2 linked regions of the Homo sapiens genome follow. The protein of the gene in region 1 purifies or fractionates together with the protein of each later gene. This does not show direct contact. Each region holds a gene or a part of one and is shown on either strand. Other genes may lie near its edges.

What was found.
Region 2: the proteins of FGD4 (region 1) and POTEE purify together in Homo sapiens (affinity purification with mass spectrometry, with the first as the bait; one large-scale study listed by BioGRID). This does not show direct contact.

The regions. Positions count from the first base shown.
Region 1 is NC_000012.12:32,576,769-32,582,087, reverse strand, and holds part of FGD4 (FYVE, RhoGEF and PH domain-containing protein 4), read right to left. Parts: intron 2,492-5,319; exon of another isoform or gene 2,343-2,491; intron 2,337-2,342; exon of another isoform or gene 1,806-2,336; intron 129-1,805; coding exon 1-128. UniProt on the Homo sapiens protein: Activates CDC42, a member of the Ras-like family of Rho- and Rac proteins, by exchanging bound GDP for free GTP. Plays a role in regulating the actin cytoskeleton and cell shape. Activates MAPK8.
Region 2 is NC_000002.12:131,215,840-131,220,516, reverse strand, and holds part of POTEE (POTE ankyrin domain family member E), read right to left. Parts: intron 2,929-4,677; 5' UTR 2,834-2,928; exon of another isoform or gene 2,208-2,833; 5' UTR 2,115-2,207; coding exon 1,594-2,114; intron 1-1,593.

The DNA.
Region 1 (5,319 bases):
TCTGTGGCAAGTGCTGGGAGAGGAGTTTTTGTTGAGGTGTGGTTGTCAATCCATGCCTTCCTGGGGTTCTAGGAGCATTTAGGTTCACAGCAGACTCTTTCTTCAAATCACTATAATTTGATAATGAGCTAAAAGATAAAATACAAAGGAAGCATGAAAACATTGGTATGGAAAAGTTCTAGAATTAAGACAAGTTTATTCCAGTTGAAAAGGGATATTCGCTACTTTTTTTTTCTATCTCTGATGGTTTCAGAAACATGGATTTGAATATTCTTAGTGTAGACCCAAGTCTCTTGGGATGCTATCCACATTTAAATAAAGATTTAAATAAAGAAGATGACCCCGAGTCTACCTATGGGGACTGGAACATTTCCTTGGGCTGTTTATTTTATTTATAACTTATTTATTTATTTTTCAACGCTTAACTTTTCTTGATCCTTGCACTGTTTAATAATGTGACTAGTTAGTAAAGACTTAGTTAGATATAATACTTACGTATTTATCATCTCTTCCTAACATTTTTACTTATTGATGTTTCTTAACATTTTTAAATAGTACAGTGTAGCCAGTCCTTAATTTATGAACAAATTATGAACCAAAGAGTTTTTTATTTGGAAGGCATAATGAATACTCTCAAAACTTTTTTATTCATGCTGCCATACCTTTTTAACTGGTCTCTTTGTTTCCACTCTGATCCCCTCCACTAGAACCTCTACAAGTCAGTCACAAACTCTGAGGGCTTCCTCACACACTCAAGGGAAAACTCAAGTCCCAGTGACAGCCTATGAGATTCTACATACTCTAGTTCCCAAAGTGCATGGCCTCATTAGATTTCATTCTTCCTTAACTCACTGTGTTCTTGCCATACTCCTTGCTGCTCCCATTCTTAATAACCAAGTGTATGTGTCTTGGGGTCTTTGCAGCTGCTGTTCTCTGCTTAGGACAATCTCTCCTAAAACACTGGTATTTCTTCTTATCATTCGGGGTTCTGTTCAGGTATCACATCTCCAAAGAGGCTTTCCTAGATTCATCTATCATAACAGCACTCTCCATCACTAACTCCACATCTGATTTTATTTTTCTTTAAAGTCCTTATTACTGCTTGACATAACAGTAGTCTTAATAGGAGAATGAAACTTACTCCCAACATATAACAATATTCCTGTGGAAATATTTGTACAGATTTTTTTTTTTTTTTTTTGAGACGGAGTCTCACTCTGTCACCCAGGCTGGAGTGCAGTGGCGCAATCTTGGCTCACTGCAAGCTACGCCTCCCGGGTTCACACCATTCTCCTGCCTCAGCCTCCCGAGTAGCTGGGACTACAGGCGCCCGCCACCACGCCCGGCTAATTTTTTGTATTTTTAGTAGAGACGGGGTTTCACCGTGTTAGCCAGGATGGTCTCGATCTCCTGACCTCGTGATCTGCCCGCCTCGGCCTCCCAAAGTGCTGGGATTATAGGCATGAGCCACCGCGCCCGGCCATTTGTACAGATTTTAATCTAGGATTCTGGGAGTGGGGTGGGGAATGGAGCACAAAACTGTGGGCTATACTCTTTGAAAGATTCCTGTGACCTAAACGAGAAGAAATAAAGCAACTAAAACTCGGTGAGGTTGCAGACTTCCTCTCTGCTTTACTCCTACCTCTTAGCGTGGCGCTTGACACAGGGGAAGTACTCAATAAATATTTGATGAACTTTGAATAACCATGATAATGATGATGATTGTGACAATAATAACAGCCAGAAACATTTATTAAGTGCTTACTAAGAACCACAAACTATAAGAAGCCCCTTACAATAATTACCTTGTTTCATCCTCACAATAATTCCAAAGACAGGGATCCCATAGAGAAATCTAGGCTTAGAAATTAAGGTGGCCAATGTCACAATGTAACAAGCAGAAAAGCCAGAGGTCAAACCATGAATCCAACTCTAAATCCCATGGTCTTCACCCCAAGTTATGATGTACTGGAGCAGAAGGACAGAATGAGCATCAGATGAATAGGCTGTAGGCAAAATGAAGGAAGAAAGTCTAGGGTTGATTATCTTCCCCTGTGCAGGTAACGGGATAAAGGGAGGTGGGGAAGGAAACAGCAAGCAGCCTGGTCCCAAGGACAATGCTGAGATGTGTCACCTTTGCTCCCAACCCACCCTTCCCAATCACTGCTGATCTGGACTGGAGAATGAAACAGGGAATAAAAGTAAACAGCAAGAAAGTGATGAGGGAGGAAAAAAGATACAGGTAAAGTCCAACACCAGAGGAAAGAAAGGATAAATTGAGTAGGGGAAAATGTCATATATATAAAAATTGGAGGTGGGCAATACAAATAAATGTTACACACTCTTCAGTTGAGATTTGCCCCCTTGAGGAGGACAACTTTGGCCTGGATAATTTCCCAAGTAGTCTTTAGAGATTTGAATCAAACTGTCCTCCTTCTCCTGCCCACATCAGTCTCTGGATTCCCTGGTGGAAAGATCCTCAACAGATCCTCTGAAACAAATTTAAGCATGTTCAGGTCTTATCTAAAGGATGGCTTTGAATGAGAGCTGCAAATGTCCCATAGTAAGTGATATCAAGGGTATGAGTAGGGAGGGAGAGGAGACGGGGAAGGATAACGTGGGTAAGGAGTTAGTAAAAGCAGTAGTTGAACCAGTACTTGGAAGATTCCTGCTGCTTTGTGGATGCCAAACCATAAGGAGAAAACAGTTGACCTTGGAGTGTCCATGGGAAAAACCAATGTTCCGGCCGGGCACGGTAGCTCACGCCGGTAATCCCAGCACTTTGGGAGGCCAAGGCGGGCAGATCACCTGAGGTCAGGAGTTCGAGCCCAGCCTCAACATGGAGAAACCCCGTCTCTACTAAAAATACAAAATTAGCCAGGCGTGGTGGTGCATGCCTTGTAATCCCAGCTATTCAGGAGGCTGAGGCAGGAAAATTGCTTGAACCTGGGAGGCGGAGGTCATGGTGAGCTGAGATCGTGCCATTGCCCTCCAGCCTGGGCAACAAGAGCAAAACTCTGTCTCAAAAAAAAAAAAAAAAAAAAAAAACCACTAATGTTCAGGTCTGTAGAAACATATTCTTATTTCTAAAATCTTAAAGTGGTTCCTAGGTTAAAAAGAGTACTCTCTCTTAACCTGAAAGAGAGAAAGAAGGAGGAATAGGAGAAAGAAGGAAACCACAGTAAAAATTAAAGAAAATCTACTTGCTCCAAATCTGTCATCTTAACAAACTAGTGCTACGATGTTTTTTTTTTTTTAAGGCAGGGTCCCACTCCGTCGCCCAGGCTGGAGTGCAGTGGCACAATCTCGGCTCACTGCAGCCTTGACCTCCTGGGGCTCAAGCAATCCTTTCACATCAGCCTCCCAAGTAGCTGGGACCACAGGCGTGCACCACCATACCTGGCTAATTTTTGTATTTTTTGTAGAGATACGGTTCTGCCACATTACCCAGGCTGATCTCGAACTCCTGAGCTCAGACAATCCAACCAATGTGGCCTCCCAAAGTGCTGGGATTATAGGCATGAGCCACCGTACCCAGCCGGGTAAGGTCTTAACAACAGTATGATATGACCATTCTGACCAGACTCCACTCTAACAGATGTTGGTTCTTCCTATCAATTTCCTGTGACAACTCAGAGCCTCCCTCTATTTTACAAAGCTAGTCTAAGCTCTCATAAGGAAGGTTAAAAATGAAAACGACCCTTGCAATGGCAAGGATATCACTCAACAGTAAATACAAATCTCCTACTTAAGTCCTATAGATCCAATGCAGTATTAACCCACACAAACACTTTAGTGGCCAGTCTGTAGTGGTAATACCTCACTGAGAACATAACATTGTTTTTTGTATCGGCAGTGGACTCTACCACAAATAATATTTCTTCACCAGACCTGCCAAAACACACTATACCCAATTTGCACTCGGAACAAACTTGCTTAAAAAAAAATCATAAATTATAGCACATTTTTCCTTAGATGAATTAAACCTTCAACCTTTGCATCAAAACAGGATTGAATTTATGAAGCTTGAATGATTAAAAAAACATTAAGTGGAAAAAGTACAAACAGTTCTCATGTAGAGGAATCTAAAACAATGCAGTGGGTTAACCAAAATGGAGAGGATGAGAGGACGCAGCCTTTGGAATACTGACCCTTTCCAGGCTTCAGAGAGTTATCCCTGAAATCTAGGGATGCAGGCTCTGACATGCCTTATGACAGGGATCAGGGCTCCAGCCCCTCCTATTATGCAGTCACTAGGCATGGCCCCTGGAATTTGCAAACATGAGGGGTCACTCTGTTGTTATCAAGTCAATTTACCCTGAGCAGCAAAAAAAAAGTTTTAAATGGAATTAAACCATTCTAAGTAAATATCACTGTAATTCAAGATAGCAAAGGTCCTATAAATCCTACTTCAGAGGAAGAGAGGCTGAAGTTGAAATATTTATGACCAAAGTTCCTACAATGTATCAGGAATGAAAATTGAAGACAGGCTTCTCTCCAGAACTTGTAACTTTGTAAAATAGACGGGGCCTCTGAGTTGTCACAGGAAATTGATAGGAGGAACCAACATCTGTTAGACCCATTTAAAAAATGAGGGACACTGCAGGTTTTGTGCTTGTTCACAATTCCCAGAAGATAATCAAACTATTTCCAAGCTATGATTTCATTACATAAGTAACAGTAAATCCGACAAATAAATAATAAAATCACCCTAATGGTTAACAAGTCCCAAATATTACACTGAAATGAATGAAAATATTTGGTTTCAAGGATGAAATTGAAGTTATACACATTCTGTTTAGTTGTACATAGACTTTTGGTGACAGGTAACAAAATTCTACTGATAAAATTGCTTAAAATTATATTTAAGTCAGTGACAAAATTTCTTTTTATCAAAAGACTAAGAAAAAATAAACAATTGAGAGTTTTATAAGGAGAAAAGCAACTTATGTGGGTTCTGTTTATCTTTAAATGAGAAATATAATATTTCACCTACCTTTGTTTTTTCCAAACATTGGGACTAAAGAATATAAATTATATTTAATAAATACAAAACTGAAATTTAGCATACATTTTGTCATTGGTAATAATATCTCTTTGCAAAACCTAGCATATGATGGAGTATATGGAGAGGGGAAACCGGGACTGAATGGGTATAGAAGACCCACATTAAATAAAATGGGATGGAAAGAAGAGAGGGCCCCAGGGAGGAGACAAGCCCACAGGGGTCACATTCACAAACATACAAAGTGAGAAACGAAGAGACAGAGGCATCCGCTCAGACTTTCCAACCCAGATATTGAGCGTCCCACAGAATGA
Region 2 (4,677 bases), on another chromosome or scaffold:
GTCTGCAAATATAGGCCAGGCACAGTGGCTCACGCCTGTAACCCCAGCACTTGGGGAAGCCAAGGTGGGTGGATCACGAGGACAGGAGTTCAAGACCTGCCTGGCCAAGATGGTGAAACCCCATCTCTACTAAAAATACAAAGCAATTAGCCAGGCGTGGTGGCAGGCGCCTGTAATCCCAGCTACTCAGTAGGCTGAAGCAGAGAATTGCTTGAACCTAGGAGGCAGAGGTTGCAGTGAGCCGAGATCGCACTACTGCACTCCAGCCGGGGCAGCAGAGTCAGACTCCATCCAAAAAAAAGTATATATATAAATATATATCTGCATATATAAATAGGCATTTGTATGTTTCTCTTCTGGTATGTTTCTCTTTTTGTATATTTAAAATTTTTAATCTATACTCTTATTTTTGTGACATAAAAATCTAGCTAGTTTTCTCCAAACATGAATTATGAACAATCCATCTTTTTCAAATAATAAAAAACACCACCATTATCAAGCGCTAAATTCTTAACATATATTTGGGTATTTCTAAATTTCCTATTCTGTTGTATTCATTGATGTCTTTTCAGCTGTTAGTAAACAATTTGTGGAAATAAATAACATGCACATTTTGATATCTGGAAAAGCAGACTTTTTCCATTCTGTTACAAAAAATTAATTTATCACAATAATAAAAGACAGCATGTGTAATTTAAAAACGCTAAAACTTTGCTATTTTTATTTGGCTTAGGTAAAAGTGATAAATAGAAAAAGCTCCCATCTTTTTTTTTTTTTTTTGAAAGGGAGTCTCGCTCTGTCGCCCAGGCTGGAGTGCGGTGGCACTATCTCTGCTCACTGCAAGCTCCACCTCCCGGGTTCACGCCATTCTCCTGCCTCAGCCTCCTGAGTAGCTGGGACTACAGGCGTCTACGACCGCACCCAGCTAATTTTTTTTATATTTTTTAGTAGAGACGGGGTTTCACCGTGTTAGCCAGGATGGTCTCGATCTCCTGACCTCGTGATCCGCCCGCCTCCCAAAGTGCTGGGATTACAGGCGTGAGCCACCGCGCCCAGCCAAAAAGCTCACATCTTAAGAAAATTCAATCTTCCTGTTCAAGCACAGGAACCATCTTCCCATTTCAGTTTCCTTCTAAGGTTCCTCAGTAAAGAACATATTTACATACTGTACATTGATATAAAATCCATACTGGATTTTATTTGAAGAATATTTAGCCCTGAAGTTGATGTGTTATGGGGCTTTGTTCTTAGTTCTCAATATACACTTTTCTATAATGTATAGAACATTGTTTTAAAATCTGTAGATTAAAAATAATCTGCTGCATTGACTTAATTAATTTTGCAAGTTAAATCACTTTAAAACAGTCTATTAGTGTTCTATGAGGGAAATTATGATTGGAAATCAGCTAAAGTTTTGTTTTTGTGTTGCTGTTCATAAAGGGCCCTGTACCCTGACCTCTCTGAGGTTTCCACATCCAGGGTGGTGTGAGGCCTGCGGAGGCGAGAAAGCCAGGTCCCCCTCCTCCCCCGCCAGGAGGGTATGTCCCCATCATCCCCCCACGTCCCACCTCCTCCCAGCCCAGGCCTGGTTACCTCTTTTGCTTGTCCTTCTTGTTCACGTCAGTGTCCCTGAGCATGACGATGAGATCCTTTCTGGGGACTTTACCCCACCAGGCAGCTCTGTGGAGCTTGTCCAGATCTTCTCCACGGACGTGGTACCTGGGCTCCATGAAGGCGCTGTCATCGTAGTCTCCCCAAGCGCCCACCTTGCTCTTGCCGCTCCCCCTGCAGCAGGGGAAGCAGTGGCAGCACCACTTCCCCATCTTGTTCCTGAGTGTCTTCATAGCAGAGTCGTCGTGGTCTCCAGAAGCGCCCACGTTGCTCTTGCCACTCCCCCTGCAGCAGGGGAAGCAGTGGTGGCACCACTTGCCCATCTTGCTCCTGAGTGTCTTCATAGCAGAGTCGTCGTGGTCTCCAGAAGTGCCCACGTTGCTCTTGCCGCTCTCCCTGTAGCAGGGGAAGCAACGGCAGCACCACTTGCCCATCTTGCTCCTGAGACCAAATGGCTTCTTCACAGAAGAGGCAGCCGGCATGGAATCAACCTCAACCACCATCTGCTTTTAACAGCCAGGAGAAGCCAGTAGTAGCCAACAGATCGCGTCTACCAACCAGTTTCACCAACTAGCAGGTAACTCCGGGTTTCCAATCTGTTTGAAGAGAAATGTCAATCCCAGCCAAAACCTGCCAACCCCAGCAGGGGATTCCAGCCCAGCCCACCCCACCCAGGGAAAACCCACACCCACCCGAGGAAAGCCCACGCCCCCCCTGGGCGACCCCACGCCCACCCCAGAAAGGGCCAACCCCAGAAAGGGCCAACCCCCGCCCCCAAGAAAACACCCAGCCCACCCAAGGGAATGCCAAACCCAGCAGAGAAAAGGTCAAGCCCAGCAAAGGAACACGAGAGAGAAAACGTCAATCCAAGCAGGAAACGTCAATCCAAGCTACCAACGCCAAGCCAAGCCAAGAACGCAAAGCCAAGCCAAGCCGCTACAGGCCAGCCAAGCCGTTAAAGCGCGTGCAGCATGCGCGTGCAAGCCATTACAGGCCAGCCAAGCCGTTACGCGCGTGCGGCGTGCGCGTGCAAGCCGTTACAGGCCGGCCAAACCGTTATGCGCGTGCGGCGTGCGCGTGCAAGCCGTTACAAGCCAGCAAGCTGCTGCCGGGCGTGCGCGTGCGCGTGCGGCGTGCGCGTGCGGCGTGCGGCGTGCGGCGTGCTTATCTCAGGTGGCGTCAGGGCACGTGGCACAGACACTGGCCGATGCATGCAACGCGCCTGCTTAAGTCTTGGCGCCACGAATGTCACTGACAGCCTTGAGTTCCGGCAAACTTCGTGGGAGTCAGCTGAGCTTTCAAGCCACTGAGAAGCCTCTGGTGAAAAAAAAAAAAGCCTCTTAAAGGAGGACTGGGGCTAAGCGTCTGGAACTTGAGGATGCTGACAGCCTCCTTTGAAAAAAGCCCCCAGGACACTCCTGGCGGTGCTGTTGTGCATGGCAGCAGCTGCAGCTGGGAGCTCGGGCTGACGGAGCTGGCTGCAAATGGCCTCAAAATCGCGGAGCACAAGACGCCCACCGAGCCCAGGGCCTGCCTGAGGTGCCTTCAACACCTGCTCCTCTTTGCTCCGCACCCAGAACACGAGGCCATCAGCAAGGGGGCATTTGGGGCCACAGGATTGCAGCCAGCTCCTGCCCCGGTGCAGTGTATACAGTGTATACTGCACAGGTGTTGGGTGCACCAAAATCTCCTGAATCACCTCTAAAGAACTTACTCATATAATCAAACACCACCTTTTCCCCAAAACCCTAGGAAATAAAATGAAGAACTTTTTGTTTATGCATACCACATATTTTTTAACTTTTTTCACAGGTTCATTGAGATACAATTTATATATTATTTAATTCACTCATTTAAAGTATAAAATTCAGTTTTTTAAGTGTATTAACTAGTTAAACAATCACCACGATTTTAGAACATTTTTATGCTCCTTAAAAGAAACTTTGCACCCATTAGCAATCTTTCCCTATTTTCCCCATTCTTCCTTTAAACCTCTCCCAGCCCTAGGCAATCATCCATCTACTTCCTAAGAATTTGCCTATTCTGGAAGGATTTGCCTATTCTGGACATTTCATGTAAGTGGAATCATAATAATATAGTTACGTGTGACTTACTACTTTCATTTATCATGTTTTCAATGTTCATCCTTTTTGGAGCATGTATTAATATGTTTTTCTTTTTCATTGCCAAGTAATATTTTATTTTATGGACAGACCACATTTTATTAATCCACTCCAAAATTCATGGACATTTCTGTTGTTTCCTACTTTTTGTTGCTATAAATACCTTTATGTGTAAGGCATTTGTTTTAATTTATTTTTGGTGTATACATAGGAGTGAATTTACTGAGTCATGTGGTAATTCTGTATTTAACCTTTGAAGAACGGCTTCATTTTTCTGCATGTGGCTTGCCAATTATACCAGCAGCATATGTTGAATAGGGTGTCCTTTCCCATTTTCTTGTTTGCTTTGTCAAAGATTAGGTAGTCTGATGCCTCCAGGTTTGTTCTTTTTGCTAAAGATTGCTTTGGTTTTTCAGCATCTTTTGTGGTTCCATTCAGATTTTAGGACTAATTTTTCTATTTCTGTGAAGAATGACATTGGAATTTGACAGCGGTTGCATTTAATCTGTAGAATGCTTTGAGTAGCATTGAAATTTTGACAATATTAATTTTTTCAGTTGACAAATATAGGACTTTTTCTATTTGTCACTTTCAATTTCTTTCATCAATGTGCTATAATTTTCAGTATACAAATCGTTCACATCCTTCATTAAAATTACTCCTTGCTCTTTGATTTACTTATATATTTGTTTTGTTGCTATTATAAATGGAATTACCTTATTTTTCAGATAACAGTTTGTCATTGGTGTATGGAAACCAATGTTAATTTTGTAACTCTCAACTTTATTGAATATAGTGTTTATCAGCTGTAATGGGTTTTTTGTGGAGTCTAAAACACAGACAATCTCACCCCTTCCCTTCCTATTTAGATGCCTTTCCTTTCTTTGCCTTGTATAATTACTCTGGCAAGTCAGTTACATATAACGTTCTCAGCATTTGTAAT